2 separate regions of the Homo sapiens genome follow, and region 1 is reported to be linked to region 2. The links are microRNA targets in miRTarBase. Many come from high-throughput screens and were not tested one by one. Region 2 holds a microRNA gene; the other region holds the end of a gene's coding sequence.
What was found. The annotated mature microRNA hsa-miR-208a-5p reads GAGCUUUUGGCCCGGGUUAUAC and lies in region 2 at 2,148-2,169, opposite strand. An mRNA with a match to its seed (bases 2 to 7 or 8) in the 3' UTR can be bound and repressed. Matches are read on the target gene's strand: a 7mer-m8 pairs with bases 2 to 8, a 7mer-A1 pairs with bases 2 to 7 and ends in A, and an 8mer does both.

Region 1: miRTarBase lists BUD23 as a target of hsa-miR-208a-5p. Seed matches in the 3' UTR shown: 7mer-m8 at 3,473-3,479.

Annotation. Positions count from the first base shown.
Region 1 is chr7:73,697,257-73,701,631 of GRCh38, reverse strand. It overlaps BUD23 (BUD23 rRNA methyltransferase and ribosome maturation factor), which reads right to left. Exons shown (of 12, transcript NM_017528.5): 11 at 3,938-4,027; 12 at 3,420-3,800. The coding sequence ends at 3,746. STX1A (syntaxin 1A) reads left to right here. Exons shown (of 10, transcript NM_004603.4): 9 at 792-902; 10 at 1,148-2,422. The coding sequence ends at 1,225. Among named protein-coding and RNA genes, the nearest start is that of MIR4284, 12 kb to the left of the region's middle. RefSeq lists an enhancer at 1,756-2,257.
Region 2 is chr14:23,386,490-23,390,864 of GRCh38, forward strand. It overlaps MIR208A (microRNA 208a), which reads right to left and starts at 2,177; the gene lies at 2,107-2,177. It overlaps MYH6 (myosin heavy chain 6), which reads right to left. Exons shown (of 39, transcript NM_002471.4): 26 at 3,568-3,957; 27 at 3,104-3,230; 28 at 2,904-3,022; 29 at 2,370-2,566; 30 at 1,666-1,849; 31 at 1,269-1,434; 32 at 1,040-1,164; 33 at 1-134. RefSeq lists enhancers at 1-405, 2,455-3,058, 3,059-3,662.

The sequences.
Region 1 (4,375 bases), not on the chromosome of region 2:
TGTCATGGTCAGATTGGCCTCTGGGGGCAGCATGGGACCAGATCACAGGGCTCAAAAGGGCTGTGGGCTGGGCAGGGGGTTCTATTTTTTTTTTTTTCTTTTTCTTTTTTTGAGACGGAGTCTCACTCTGTCATCAGGCTGGAGTGCAGTGGCAGGATTTCAGTTCACTGCAACCTCTGCCTCCCAGGTTCAACCAGTTCTCCTGCCTCAGCCTCCTGAGTAGCTGAGACTACAGGTGCTCGCCACCACGCCCAGCTAATTTTTGTATTTTTAGTAGAGATGGGGTTTCACCATGTTGGCCAGGATGGTCTCGAACCTGACTTCAAGTTCTTAAAGACTGAAGACCCCAGACAGCAGACAGAGCTGGATGGAGCTGTCATGCCTGAGGATGGGGGTGTGGGCAGGCTCACCTGTGGCCACCTCAGGAGCTATGGCCAGGGCAGGACCAGACTCCAGCATACCCACTCCTGCTCCCACCTTCCTCTGCCTGGCACTGCCACATCTCTGACAGTGTTCTCTGCATGGTCCCCAACCCTCAGCTGAGACTGCATGGCCAGCTCCACCCCCAGGATTGCTGCTCTGCGGGGAAATGTGGGAGCTGCCTTGGGGAGCCTGCCTGGCCCTCTACACCCCACCCAGGGTACCTGGCCCAGGTGAGAAGCTGTACCCTAACCTCCTCACGCCCCCTTTTTGTCTCTAGCCTCAGGGTGCTTTCCTGAAGTCCTGCCCCGAGCCCCAACCCAACCCTGAGGAGGGGGCCCTCTGGAGCTCGGGTGCCCCCGGCCCCGCAGGGAGAGATGATTGACAGGATCGAGTACAATGTGGAACACGCGGTAGACTATGTGGAGAGGGCCGTGTCTGACACCAAGAAGGCCGTCAAGTACCAGAGCAAGGCGCGCCGGGTCAGTAGCCCAGCCCTGCCCAAGGCCATGCCCCAGCACCCATTAGGGACCCCCAACCATCCCACATCCCTCCCCATCCCACCTCTCTCCCTTCTCTCAGGAGCTCCCCATGACAGCCCCCTCCCAGGCCGTCACCTTCCCCTGCTTGGATCCCCCCCGACTGTCCAGTCCTCAGCCTTTGCCATAGTCCCACCCCACCTGCCGCCAACACTGTCTGAGGCCTCTCCTGCCCGCTTCCCATGCAGAAGAAAATCATGATCATCATCTGCTGTGTGATCCTGGGCATCGTCATCGCCTCCACTGTTGGGGGCATCTTCGCCTAGAAGCCACCCAAACTGCCACTCCACTCCAGGTGGGCCACTCCAAGGAGGCCCTGGCTGCTGCCACCTGGCTGGGCTGCCCTCCCAACCCCCGCCTCTGGCTCAGAGCACCCTCCCTCCCGGCCCCCATGCTCCCTTCTCTGCCATGGGCCCTCCGTCCCCGCCCCGTGTCGTGTGCATGATCTCTGTGAGTGTGCGTCTGTACGGGAAGAGGCAGAGGGAGGCAGCCAGCGGGGCGTGATGCAGTGTGCACAGCGAGGAGCAGACCCAGGCAGGGCCGCCAGGGTGACACAGGCCACCCTTCCTTGCCTTCAGTAACTCGGTGGGCCCAGGTTCTGCTCTTCCCTGGGGACCCTAACCTCGCCTCCAGCTGACCTGCCCTGTCCTCTCCAGCTGTCCCCACAAGCAGAGCCCTGAGGGGTGGGGACCAGCTGGCCACATGGTGCTGCTTTTCAGGTTAGGGGAGAGGTGGCCCTGAGGGACAGCCCAGCTCTGAGTCTCAGTCGCTGATCACTGCCAGGGAGGCTCAGGCTGCCATGGCTCCAGGCTCCCTCCCCTGCCTAGGGGCAAAGTCCATCGGGTCCTGGGCCTCAGCTTCCCTTCCCACATTCCTCCGGCCCCAGGAGCAACCCCTTGGGCTAGGTCTGACCCCAGGTGTCCCTCTGGAAGGGGCTGGCTGGTGCCCTATTTCCAGCCACCCCAGCAGCTAGGGAGGCAAAGCAGGCTGCAGTCAGTCCCTCAAGCCAGCGTTGCATGTTTGGGATGGTGGCTCCTGTTGTCTTGCGCTCTGGGAAGTCAGATGTCATTTCAGGCCTGCAGTCTCATCCTGCCCTTGCCATCCTCCCATCGATGTGCCACGTGGGTGTCACGTGTCCCAGATGCAGTATTCGGCAGCCAGCCGGGGAGGGCTACCTCCTCCTCCTCACCACCTTGGGGCTTCTCATGGGAAATGTGCCCCCGCCCCAGGACCCTCTCCCTTGTGGACAGGCAGGGAGATGCATGCGAGTGCATGCAGCAGGGGATGGGGCCGTGTCCGTGTGCCCCACCCTCCCTCGGCTTTACTCCTGCCCAGTGACTGTGACCACTGTCCGTGTTGCCTTCTTGAACAGCGATTCCCCCCAACCCCTTCACCAAAGGTCTTGGTACAACCAGCTGCCCATTTTGTGAAATTTTTATGTAGAATAAACATTTGTATCTGTACCAGGCCTCTGTTGTAGATTTCTTCCCCAGGTCTCCTGGGGGAAAACCTTAGGAGGGTTCTCACTATTGCCCAAGCTGGCCTCCCACCTCAGCCTCCCACAGAGCTGGGACCACAGGTTGTGCCTGGCCTGGCTGCTCTAGACTTCTTGCCATCTGCAGTGTCACAGTCTTAGAACCTGAGGATGAATGAATGTGGCACTAAGAGGAAGGGCTCAGAGGCGAGGATCCCAACTCAGCCTCAACCCCACCCTGGGCCTTCAACTTCCTCAGACCTGTCTCTGGCCGTGCAGTGGAAAACATCCAGGCCTTATTCCCTGAGAACAGGCCCAGAGGCCACTCTCAAGGCCTGGAATCTGACACCTGCAGGAAACCCCACTGCAGGGCTTAGATCCTCAGGCCCCAAGCCTCACCCCACTCCCAGACACCCAGCCCCTCGGGCCCCGGCACCCATTCCCTAATGTCTTAAGCTGCTGAACACCTAATCCAGCTCTGTACTGCAATGCCCAGGATCTTGCCCCTCTTCCCACATGGACCAAAAGGCTCAAGCAACCATTACACCTCCTCTCCTATCACAGCCAGCTGGACAGTCCCACACTACCCCAGAGCAGGACCTTCCCTTTCCAACCACTAGTGACGGGACAAGAGATCAGCCCAAGACATCCAAGCACTGGGCTGGTAGGCAGCTGACCGTGCAGCTCAGTGCCACAGTTCAAGCTGGGGCCGCTGGACTGGCAAGGCCTTCACAGGAAGGGAAAACGGACTGGCCAGCAGGCACCACGAACACATTTCATGTGGGCCCTCTTCCCAACTTTGCTTGGTGTGATTATGATACAGTTATATATAAGCCCTAAATTAAAGGACTCTGTGTTCCTTGCAAATGGAAAGAATGCTTTCATCTAAGTGTTTTAAATCTGATTCCTGCCTGGGGAGTCGAGCAGTAGCCCACCAGGAGGAACTGGAGTTTGGTGAGAATCACAGAGCTGGGAGATGCCAGAGCTCCACAAAAGGAAATTTTATTTCTTGCCTTTAAACAAAATAAGATGCTCTCAGAGCTTTTTTTTTTTTTTTTTTTCCTCCCTGGAAAGGAAGTTTCATTATGTTGCCCAGGCAGGTCTCAAACTCCTGGCCTCAAATGATCCTCCCACCTCAGCCTCCCAAGGTGCTGGGATTACAGGTGTGAGCCACCACGCCCGGCCCAGAGAACTTTTTTTTTACTGCAGAAAACATTTTTATAACTTTAGAACTTTTCTAAAATACTACTTTGTCAGCTGAACAATATAGAAAAGTGCAGAGGCAAGTGCCTTTCCAGAACCGCGTGGTGACTTAGAAGCGGGGCTTGCGCTTGCGGCCGGTGTACTGGGTGTCAGGTCTGACTTCCCTGTGCAGAAAAGGAATAGGACAGTCTCAGAAAAAAAAGATCAAAGCAGCCCTGGACCCTTCAAATAAAGGGAAGCTCTTCATGGCAATAGTCATCCACCCCCCACCCACCCTGCCAGCTCCCAGGCTGGCACTCACCTGCCCTGGCGCCTGTGCCGCTCCTTCTTCTCCAGCACCCATGCCCGACTCTTCCTCACCATTCCCCGCCTCGACATCCTTAATGGGAACCTGTGGCGGAGACACAGCTATGAGCTGATGGACAGCTGATGGATGGGGCTGCCCGACTGGCCCCCATGTGAATCCATGGCAAGCTTACCTCCGAGTCTGGTGGCCTCGGATGCCCCTTCTCTCAAATGCTCCACCTTCCCTATAACACAATTCCCCGCTCTGGACACCCTCCTTCCTGATAACATCCATCCGGGCCACAGAGGTTGTTGGGTGGGCAGAGGAGGAGAGAGCTGGGCCGGGCATGGAGACCTAAACACCAGCGAGCAGTCTGTTCCCTCTTCGGGAAGCAGCTAAGCAGCAGTAAGCAGGCCGCTTTCTACCAATGCAATGACACATCATCACCTAGAC
Region 2 (4,375 bases):
ACCCGCTGGTGGTTGCGCTTGGCCTGTTCCATCTCCTCGTCCTTCTCTGCCAGCTTCCGCTCGATCTCTGCCTTGATCTGGTTGAACTCTAGCTGGGCCCGGAGGATCTTGCCCTCCTCGTGCTCCAGGGAGGCCTGGGAAGGGGTGGGGCGAGGGCGGGCAGACAGGGCACAGGGCAGGGTTGAGAGGGAGGATGAGAAGATACACGGTGTCAGCCAGGACTATCGCCCAGAGAAGAAGAGCTGAGAAGAGATGGGGAGGTGGGATCTGCACCCCATGCCCACCACGGTGCTATTGGGGAGAAAGTGCTGGACTCTCTGGGCTTCCCCTGTCAAGAAAAGGGTTTGGACCTCACAATTGCCAGACCCTCCAGCACTAACACTGCATAAATTCCTGACCTGTCTAAAGTATTATAGAAAATGGAGGAATTTTTATAACCACAAATACAAAATTTTATCTTGTTTTCCAGGTCCCTCACCCTTTCCTGAGAAAAGTTAGAAGCCCAGAAAACTCAGGGCTATTCCCAGGTGCTTAGAAATGAAGAGTAACAATAGCTAATATATATTAAGTGCTTAAATGTGTTACCTCATTTAATCTTTATAATAATCATGTGTAAAATCATATGAGGTATGTACAGTTAATTCCATTTTACAGATGAGAAAACTGAGGCAGAGAGAGATTAAAGATTTTGCCCAACGCTGCAGTGAAAGTCCTCAAGCTGTGTTCCAACTCAGGCCTGTTTGACTCTGGAACCCCACACTCCTACCCACTGTCTAAGTGGTTATTATTATGGCCAGATTCCAACTTTTAAAACCTGGTGGGAAACAAAACCTTTGGCCTCTAATCAGACTGACATTTTCCTTTGTGCAGACCTTGGCTTTGGAGGCAGTCATGGGTAGTGAATAGTGGGTAGATAATGTTGAACAAAGAATATGGAATGAATAGATTTTGTCCTGGGGTCAGGGTCACCCCCAGGTGAGGGAGAAGTGGGAGACAGCGGCAGAACAGGGATGGGGTGCAGGGAGTTCTCGGCCCTCACCTCTGCCTCCTCCAGGGCTGACTGCAGCTCCAGCTTCTCCACCTCCAGCTGTTTGCGGACCTTCTCCAGCTCATGCACATTCTTTCCTCCTTCTCCTAGCTGCTCAGTAAGGTCCGAGATTTCCTCTGGGGACCAGAGGGCCAGAAAGCTCAAAGCCTATGTTCCCCCTGCCCCTGCATGGCCCTCCCTCCCACCAACTCATCTCTGGCCTCTTGGACCCCCAGCACACCCTGAAGGTTCTTGTTCTCCCGCTTGAAGGTCTCTAGGTGCTCCAGGGACTCCTCGTAGGCGTTCTTGAGCTTGAAGAGCTCTGTGCTGAGGGAGCGAGCCTCCTTCTGTGAGGACTCCAGCTCAGACTGCGACTCCTCATACTTCTGCTTCCACTCGGCCAGGATCTGCCCGGGGACAAGGCTCACTCTTCAGCCCCCCAGCCTTAGCTCCCCAGCCCTCCTGCTTCCCAGTGCCCCAGCCCCCAGCCTCAGCCGCATGTCCAAGATCTGTCCCTGGTCCCGAGCCTGGGCTTAGCCCTCCTCCTCCACCTCCAAGGAGGTTGCCTTTGGCCTCTCACTGAACCCCTCATGCCCCCTTGCCCTGCATGCTGGCTGCGGCCCCCGCCCATGGTCCACCTTGTCAAAGTTTCTCTGCTTCTTGTCCAGGGCTGCAGCAGCAGCATTGGAGCGCTCTACGTCCACCATCAAGTCCTCTATCTCATTCTGTAGCCGGTGCTTGGTCTTCTCCAGTGAGGAGCACTTGGCATTAACAGCCTCCACGGCCTCCTCGGCATCCTGCAGCCGCTGGGCCAGCTTCTTTCTGCCCAGGTGAGGGTGGAGGGTGTGTGTGTGACTCTACTGGGCAACACTGGAGCCTTGGGTGGACCTCCTTCCACCCCCTCCCTATATCTCCTTGAGACACCGTAAGTCCAGCCTAGCAGGAGCTGAGCCTGCTCATGCCTGGAACAGAGTCCGCCAGCACGGGCTGCCCAGGCGTCCTCCCTACCTGCAGTGGCATCTGGGTGTCAGTGCCCCCTGCCCTCACCCCCCACACAGGCTGATCGACGGTAGCTCCTCTGACCAACAAGCTTTTTGCTCGTCTTATACGTGAGCATCAGGTATAACCCGGGCCAAAAGCTCGCCCGTCACAGGAAGTGGGTCAGGGCCAGCCAGAGTTCACAGAGCAAAGAGTTCAGGCTTTCTTCCAAGCACTTCTGTTGCCCTCCGAGTTCCTCCTGTCTCTTCCACTTCCGTCTCATGACCACTTTGCCTGTCCCCACCCCAGGTCCTCTCGCCCCTTCCTCTCTGAGAGTCAGGTTAAGGGGGTATCTGGAGCTCACTTGGCCTCTTCGAGCTCCTCAGTCCGCTGAATGGCGTCCGTCTCATACTTGGTCCTCCACTGGGCCACCTCCGAGTTGGCCTTGGACAGGACGCGCTGCAGCTCGGCCTTGGCCTCTGTCTCCTCCTCGTACTGCTCCCGCAGCAGGTCGCAGTCATGCCGGGCCGACTGCAGTGCATGGGCCAGGGCGTTCTTCGCCTGGGGAGGGGGGGGGGCACCAGGAGGTGGGAGGGACTCCCTGTGCCCCATTCTCTAGATTCTCTTCTTATGTAGTACTTCAACCAAGCCCAGCCTTATTCACCATGTGGGCTGATGTGGCACCTCACTGTTTGAGGAGTTTCCCAGTCTGCTCACCCCATCCCCTTACGAATAAGAAAAGAGGCATTAAATGACGCTTAGCTGCAGGGCAGAACCTAGACTGGAGGGTCTTTCCCTTGCAGAGGACTCTTTCCAGCTCCAGGCTCCATTTCTGGCACTGAGATGAATTGCCCCAGGGCTGCCATCAAGCCTGCCCACCCTCCCCACTGGGCCTCACCTTGCCCTCCTCCTCCAGCTGCCTTTTGAGGTCCTCCATTTGCTGGGTATAAGAGAGCTTCCCCCGGGTCAGCTGCGAGATTAGCGCCTCCTTTTCCTCTAGCTGCCGGGCCAACTCTCCTGGAGGTGAAATGAGGGGCTTGTGGGCCATTTCACAAGTCATGTCCTGCCCTAGGCAGGGGGTTGGTTAGGGGCACCCACCATTCTCGGTCTGCAGCTTGGCTCGCTGGGTGGTGAAATCATTGAGGGAGCGTTGGGCCTCTTCTAGCTTCACGCGGTACTCATTGGCCTGGTCCTCCAGCGTCCGAGACACTTTCTCCAGGTTTGCCTTCAGGAAGCAAGACAGGAAGGGTGAGTGTGGGAGGGGCTGAGTCGACCAGAGGAAGGAAGAGAGGGTCAGAGATGGGGAATGCCAGAGGGCAGGAGGGGGACACAGAAGGTGTGGGAGGGCGCAGTCTGAAGAGAGACTTGAATTAAAGAAAGGAGGAACATGAAGAGATAGAGAGGGTGAGGAGAGCCAGAGAGGGGCAGGGGAGACAGGAAGAGAGACCAAAGGGTGATGAAGAGAATGAGAATGACAAGGGAGATGGCAGACAGAGAGAGAAGGCATGGGGGAGGCTCCGCTGTGCAGGGGAGAGGGCGAGGGGAGGCCGAGCAGAGCCTGCCTTGGCCTTGATGATCTGCTCCATGTTGGAGGTGACGTCATCCAGCTCCAGCTTGAACTCGCTCTTCTCCTTCTCCAGCTTCTGCTTCACCCGCTGCAGGTTGTCGATCTGCTCGCCCAGCTCGGCCACGCTGTCGGCGTGCTTCTTGCGCAGGGCCGCGGCAGTGGCCTCGTGCTGCAGCGTGGCCTCCTCCAGGTCCCGCCGCATCTTCTGGAACTCGGCCTCGCGCTTCTTGTTCATCTCGATCTGCACGGACGTGGCCCCGCCGGCCTCTTCCAGCCGCTCGCTGATCTCCTCCAGCTCCCGAGACAGGTCTGAGCGCAGCTTCTCCACCTTAGCCCTGGCGGTGCGCTCGGCCTCCAGCTCCTCCTCCAGCTCCTCGATGCGTGCCTGGGTCAGACACAAAGGGCTCAGACCCACCGCCTGGACCCCTCCACTGGAATCCCCCCGGCTCTGAAAAGCTACCAGGAACTTAGGTTCCTCTCAAGCAGTGGTTCTCAACTAGGGGCAATTTTGTGCCCCAGGGAACAGTTGGCAATGTCTGATTGTCATGTCTTGGTGGGGCTTGCTACTGGCATCTAGAGGGTAGGGGCCAGGGATGCTACTAAACATCCTATAATGCATAGGCCATCAATAGGAATTTGGCTGAAGCTCCCAAGGGCATCTCAGACCCAGTGTGAGCATCTGCAGCCCCAAATCCTGAGAACCTGTGGTTGAAGGGGGATCCTGGTATCCTGTGAGATCAAGAAGTTCAGAGTCCCCAGATTCACTAGGCTCTGTTGCGCTATTCATAAGACGGGAAAATGAG